Linked DNA regions of Homo sapiens. The protein of the gene in region 1 interacts with the protein of each later gene in a pairwise test. Each region holds a gene or a part of one and is shown in the gene's direction. Other genes may lie near its edges.

Region 1 (3,500 bases):
GAAATTCAAACAGCATCTCAACATGAATCCTTCACAAATTTGCACATTTGCTTAGGCTGCTATTTAAATTATTTTCATTTCCCTGTGCACGTGCCAATAGCCAGTAGAGAGGACAGCCCAGGTGCTCCCCAAGCTGGCTGGGGGGATAGGGGTGGGGGCGGGAGAGAGGATGATGCTGGAAGAATCAGATTGAGGTGAACACAAGGCTGTACATACTCCACCAAGTGGACAATCAAGAGTCAACCCTGAAACCACCTCTCCCTCTGACCTGGCAGCTTTCTCATGACCATTCTTCTCTCTTCTTCCGTCTTTGTCCCTTCCGTGTGCCCCCTCCTCCAACACCCTCACCCGCTTCTCCCCGCCTCTGTCTGTCTGTCCCTCCCTGCCTGGCTCATGCCGAGGGCAGGCACCTCTGTCAGCCTCCTCGCAGTTGTAGTTATTGTGTGTGGCGTGGCCCTGGTGGCAGTTTTTCTCTTTCTCTTTTGGAAGCTGTGCTGGATGCCCTGGAGGAACAAGGAGGCCTCCAGTCCCTCTTCTGCTAATCCCCCCTTGGAAGCCCTCCAGAGCCCCAGCTTCAGAGGCAACATGGCGGACAAGCTGAAGGACCCCAGCACCCTGGGCTTCCTGGAGGCGGCCGTGAAGATCAGCCACACGTCCCCAGATATCCCAGCTGAGGTGCAGATGTCGGTCAAGGAGCACATCATGCGTCACACCCGGCTGCAGCGGCAAACTACAGAGCCAGCGTCATCCACCAGGTGAGGAGTGGACCACTCCCTTCCCTGACCCCCACACCTCCACACTCCCTTAATACATCTATGGGATTCCAGCCTGTGGGGATCACAGACCAGAAATAATAACACATATCCTTTGATTGACAAATATGTCAGATGATGTGAGCCATGATGGGTGATCAATGAGGAGGTGGGCACCAGGAAAGACTTCATGAAAGGGAAACCTTTGAGGCGGGTTGCTGTATATGTGGTTTGCACTTGGGGTGTGTGTGGGTGTGAGGGGAATGGAATAGTGGAATAGGGGAGTGTTGGATGTTTGGAAGGAAAGACTTCAGGCAGAAGGAAGAGAACAGTAAAGGCCTAGAGATGTAAGAGTTCATGGTGTGTTTAGGGATATGTCAGTAAAGCCTGATAGCTACAGTCTGCAGTACATGGCAGATAAGGCAAGGGAATCTTAATAGTTTGAGAATCAGGATTCCTTTAAAGCCTTTCAGAGTTCCCTGCATGACAACAACTGTAAATACATACAGCATCCTTTAACTGAAAATAGCAACAAGAAAAACATAACGACAAAAACCTACCCTAAATTCAGAAGCACTTTTAAAAGATGTGGTGCAAGCATGCGTAAGGCATTGTATTTACTCAAAACTTAGGGCTCTGATGGACTCCTAGGTCCCTGCAACGGCTCTCCAGGCCCTCAGGGGACCAACAAAAGAGAACGAGGCCTGGTCTTCAGACTGGAGGCCAGGAATGAACATGCTGGGAGGTCACACTGACAGTCTGTCATATGGCCTTGGGCAAGTTCCTCACCTTCCCTTAGACTCACTTTTTCCAACTGTAAAATAAGGCTGATGACTTTTATATGGCAGTTGTGAGGAGCCAATGGAAGAATCAATGTGATTGATAAGGAGAGCTAACACATATATTGCTTATGATTATGCTTGGCTCTATTCTAAGCACTTCATATGTAATCAATTCATTTCACAGCAATCCTATGCAGCTGTTACTTTTATTATCCTCGTTTTTATGGCACAGAGAGGTTAAATAACTTTCCCAAGATCTCAGCTAGAAAGTGACAGAGCCAAAATTAACCTATGCAGGCTAACTCCAAAGCCCATGCTTTTACCACTCTGCTGCCTGCCGTATAGCAAATGCTTAACAAATGGTGATGGTGATGATGGTGATGAAGTGGGTGCCACATTGAGGATAAGAAGGGATGGTCCTTCTCTTAAGGAATCTCATGATTTAATAAGGAAACCAGAGTCATGTCTACTAGGAAGTAAACCTAGAAAGCAGGTAACAGAAAAGCAGGAAAAAGTGATTATGATAACAATGGCTAAAGTTTATTGAGCTTACTATATATCAGGCACCATTCCAACTACTTTACATATATTAAGACATGTAATGCTCACCACAACCTTGCACACAAAGTGTATGCAGAGCAAAAGTGGGGTCAAGAAGAGGAAGGAAAAGGGGGCTCAACAAGGGATAAGATGAGCCAGGGCCTCCAGGCTCGTGTTTGCCTTCATCCCCCTTCCCCTGAGCCCTGACCACACTCCCTCTGCCCCCTCCTGCCCTCTACCAGGCACACGTCCTTCAAGCGCCACCTGCCAAGGCAGATGCATGTCTCCAGTGTAGACTATGGCAATGAGCTTCCACCAGCAGCAGAGCAGCCCACCAGCATTGGCCGCATCAAGCCTGAGCTCTACAAGCAGAAGTCGGTGGATGGGGAGGATGCCAAGTCTGAGGCCACCAAGAGCTGCGGGAAGATCAACTTCAGCCTACGCTACGATTACGAGACCGAGACCCTGATTGTGCGTATCCTGAAGGCTTTTGACCTCCCTGCCAAGGACTTTTGTGGAAGCTCTGACCCTTATGTCAAGATCTACCTCCTGCCTGACCGCAAATGCAAGCTGCAGACCCGGGTGCACCGCAAGACCCTGAACCCCACCTTTGATGAGAACTTCCACTTCCCTGTGCCCTATGAGGAGCTGGCTGACCGCAAGCTGCATCTCAGTGTCTTCGACTTTGACCGCTTCTCCCGCCATGACATGATTGGCGAGGTCATCCTGGACAACCTCTTTGAGGCCTCTGACCTGTCTCGGGAAACCTCCATCTGGAAGGATATCCAATATGCCACAAGTGTAAGTACAGCCCTGTTCCTTGGCTTCTTGAGGATTTGTGGTTCTGGGTTGGGTGGGACATGTCCCCAAACCCTCACTTCCTAGAGACAAATGGGCCTTTGCCATTTGGGATGTGAAGAGGGACTCTGGAAACTGCCCAGTGGCCCAGTCTACCCTTGCACTCTGCCCCAGGTTGGGATGGCAGAGAGCAGAGTCCCCATGTAGCTAGGAAGGGAAGGGAATTTTTATCTGTGGCTTCTGGTTGCATGTTCTGGGGTGGTTCTTTCTACTGAGAGTACTGATGTGCATTAGAAACTTGGCATAGGCAATTGAAACAGGCCATATCAATCAGACTGAACTAGGCTATGCTGCAGCAGCAAACAGTCCGAGGATTTTGTGGCTTTAGACAACCAAAGTTTATGCCTTGTTCATGTTTCATGTGCTTTGCAGCTGGACTGGGGACTCTGCTCCACCTTGTTACCTGGGGACCCAAGCCAACAGAGGCTGCATTTAGACACGGGCCCCCACAGTTAAACATCAGGAGGAAGAGGAAGTGGCAAATCACGCACTGTTTATTAAAACTTCCACGCAGAAGTGACACATGTCACTTCCACTCCCATTAGAACAAGACACGCGGTAACTCCTA
Region 2 (3,500 bases), on another chromosome or scaffold:
TCTGTCACCCAGGTTGGAGTGCAGTGACACAATCTCAGCCCACTGCAACCCTCGCCACCCGAGTTCAAGTGATTCCCTGCCTCAGTCTCCTGAGTAGCTGGGATTATAGGCGCCCACCACTGCACCCGGCTAATTTTTGTATTTTCAGTAGAGATGGGGTTTCACCATGTTGGTCAGGCTGGTCTCAAACTCCTGACCTCGTGTTCCGCCTGCCTCACCCTCTCAAAGTGCTGGGATTACAGGCATAAGCCACCGCATTCGGCCTCAAGTAAAGACTTTCAAAAGCACTAGTTCAACTAGCTTTTCAGAATTTGTTTAGAAATGTATTAAATTATATTTCAAAAATGTGTAAACATTCCATTTTATGGAGTATTTTGTCTTTTAGTTTTTCCTTCGTTGGCTTGTCCTTCTTGAAGGGGTTTAACTTTTTTTTTAATGCATATTTTAACAACACACCAGTATCTATTACTGCCAGATGTGGAATCTGTACCATTCCATGAGAAAGCAGAATGGGAAACTGTAGCTAAAAATACCCTGGAGAAGAGCACATGAATAAAGGAAGATAGCACACACACACACACACACACACACGCAAATATGTGTAAAACTAACGCTAAAGAAATAGGAACGGCCGGGCGCAGTGGCTTACGCCTGTAATCCCAGCACTTTGGGAGGCCGAGGTGGGTGGATCACTTGAAGTCAGGAGTTTGAGACCAGCCTGGCCAACATAGTGAAACCCCGTCTCTACTAAGTATACAAAAAATTAGCTGGGCATGGTGGCGCATGCCTGTAGTCCCAGCTACTTGGGAGGCTGAGGCAGGAGAATCGCTTGAACCTGGGAGGCGGAGGTTGCAGTGAGCCGAGATCGCGCCCTCGCACTCCAGCCGGGGCATCAAGAGCAAAACTCCATCTCAAAAAAAAAAAAAAAAAAAAAAAAAAAAAGAAAAGAAACAGGAACAGAATTGGTTGGAAAATATAGGTTTGGGTTTTTAAAAATCTTTTTACTTAGTTACTTAAAATTTGAAAATTCAAATGGCAAGGTGAAATCTAGTTATTACTTAGTGAAATAACTTTCTTACTTTTTTAGGGCTAATGTTAGCTCTAAGTATCTGTTTATAGTTGGACTAGTTCAGGGTCAATGGAAGTTTTAAAAAGAGGTGTGGGAATGGTATTAAAGGCATTAAGATATTCAAACCCATTTCTGCCTTGACTGACTCCACTACTTCTACTCCCTCATCACGCCTTTGAAAAAGGAAAATATAGTTTATTTCTCTTACCTTTGCTCGAGGCCTAATGCTTACCTTCTTATTAGCTCTCACCTAAATATCAGTAGTATACTTCTATAAGTAATTGGATTGGAACAGCTTTTTGAAGATTTTGTTGCTGGCTAATATAAATAATACACTTAATCAAAATTATTCTTAAAAACTAAATTTAGGTATACATGATTGGCTTCTCTGGGTTTTATAACATAAAGAATGTGAGCAAGAGAACCAGTTCTAAATCCCAGTATAAAATGCCAATACTCCAATGCCAAACCATTGGTTTGCCTCCAAAAACAGGTGGTTATAGGGTTCTTGTATTGCTGGGTGACTGCATAAAATATCTTTTGACAAAGAATTTGATATACTGATCTCATAATTACACCTAAGTATAGCCTTTACTTTAATGAACATAATCTATTTTTACCCAGTGCAAATATTCACATTGATATACTAGGCTTTAAAGTGTGGAAAAGAATAGGACATACATGTTTTTAAAACCAAATGGAAACCTAAAGGGAAAGGGAAATTTTCTTTTTGTTCATTCAATTTTAACAGAAATAACAGCTTAAGATTTTTTTATTTAATACTTATATTATTTTTCAAGGAAAAGACCATTTCAGGCATGAAGAATATCATTGCTGAGATGGAACAGGCATCAAGGTAAATCAGTCGTGCAACAAATATATGAGCTCTTACTGGGGGGCCAAGTACCATGTTAGGTACAAAGATAGTAAGAAACAAGGGGCTTAATGATACGTGTAAGGTGCTAACTCTCTCATCAAAGGAGGCCTAAGTCTGTCTAAGGAACTAAAAGAGGGGATGGTGTTTGCCAAGTAAAATAAGGGGAAGGGAAGGGCATTTAAAGTAGAAAGAATAGCAAAGAACCACAGATCATGTTGACAAGCCTCTTGACCTACAAGTGGGTGAGTGTTGTTGAAACCTAGAGTGTAAGGGGAGAAGTGAAGGGAGGAGACTAAATAGGCAGGCAGAGGCTTGTGTAACAGACAAATGAGTATTGGTTATATCCTTTGGGCAATAAGAAATCATTAAAGAATTCTGAGGAGAATTTTGTGTTAGAAAGATACCTAAGCAGAAGAGGTGGTGATAAATTGGGGTTTAGGAGTTGTGGGACAGAAGGAGTGAAATGCTTTTGTATGAGGGAGAGACACCAGGAAAATGCCAAGTTTCTGGCCAGGGACAAATACTGAACATGAAGAAAGTATGAGGAGAAAAAATGATTTTACCTCTGAATTTGAAGAACCTTTGGGACCTTATTGTAGACATGTCTAGTAAGCAGTTAAATATAAGTCTGGAGTATAACAGAGGGTCTAAAACTGGAGATAATTATTTTGGAGTCATTGGATCTAGATGGGGTTGGGAACCATGGATATGAATAGAGTTTGTCTGAGAGAAGGGTTAGAGTGAGAATAATTGGGAGGCTAGGGCTTGAGCCCTGAAAAGCATTAATTTTTAAGTGGGCAGAGGAAGAGGAATCTGTAAAGGAGACTAAGCCATAACAGAAGTAGGATGAAAGCCTTCCTAATACTTGATGTAAGAAGTTTTGAAATATTTGGCAAATCATTGACTATTATGTATACTTTGTATCCTTTTCATAGCGAAATGATGGCAACATTGAGAAACTCTAATGCACTGTCTTTGCAGTATTTATTCCTATAAATTCAAACGTGTTTAAAATCTCTTCAAATGTTTTCATACTAACTGTCCATCTTCTGTCTTGTGAGAATTTGTTGCTCTGTTTCAGTAAAATGTCTCTTCTTATGTACTCTTTGATTTGTGGAATAGACAGTGTACTGAGGCCCTAATTGTGTGTGAACAAGACGTTTCCAGAATGCGTCGGCAATTGGATGAGACAAATGATGAGCTGGCCCAGATCGCCAGGGAAAGAGATATCTTGGCTCATGACAATGACAATCTCCAGGAACAGTTTGCTAAAGCTAAACAAGAAAACCAGGTACACTTGTTCCTAGAATCATTTTCTCCAAGAAAAAAAAATATGAATTTCTTGTGAGGAACAGCCCTCATTTTATTTTATAGAAGAGCTCAGACACTGGAACTAGCCTTTTCTTTTTTTTAAAAAATAACAAAATAGGCCACATAATTTTTAAATGGAATTCTCAGACACAAAGGGTTAAATATTAAAGAAAAGAGAGAACAGGGCTATATTTGTATTAAAGCTTAGTACTTCCTTGCTGAAGGATAAATATTTGAATAATC

The links. Proteins that work in one complex are often made in the same cells at the same time.
Region 2: the proteins of SYT6 (region 1) and TSGA10 interact in binary tests that used the Homo sapiens proteins (3 or more experiments, as listed by UniProt).

Annotation. Positions count from the first base shown.
Region 1 is NC_000001.11:114,136,870-114,140,369, reverse strand, and holds part of SYT6 (synaptotagmin-6), read left to right. Parts: intron 1-406; coding exon 407-755; intron 756-2,316; coding exon 2,317-2,875; intron 2,876-3,500.
Region 2 is NC_000002.12:99,071,443-99,074,942, reverse strand, and holds part of TSGA10 (testis-specific gene 10 protein), read left to right. Parts: intron 1-1,869; coding exon 1,870-1,925; intron 1,926-3,068; coding exon 3,069-3,237; intron 3,238-3,500. UniProt on the Homo sapiens protein: Plays a role in spermatogenesis. When overexpressed, prevents nuclear localization of HIF1A.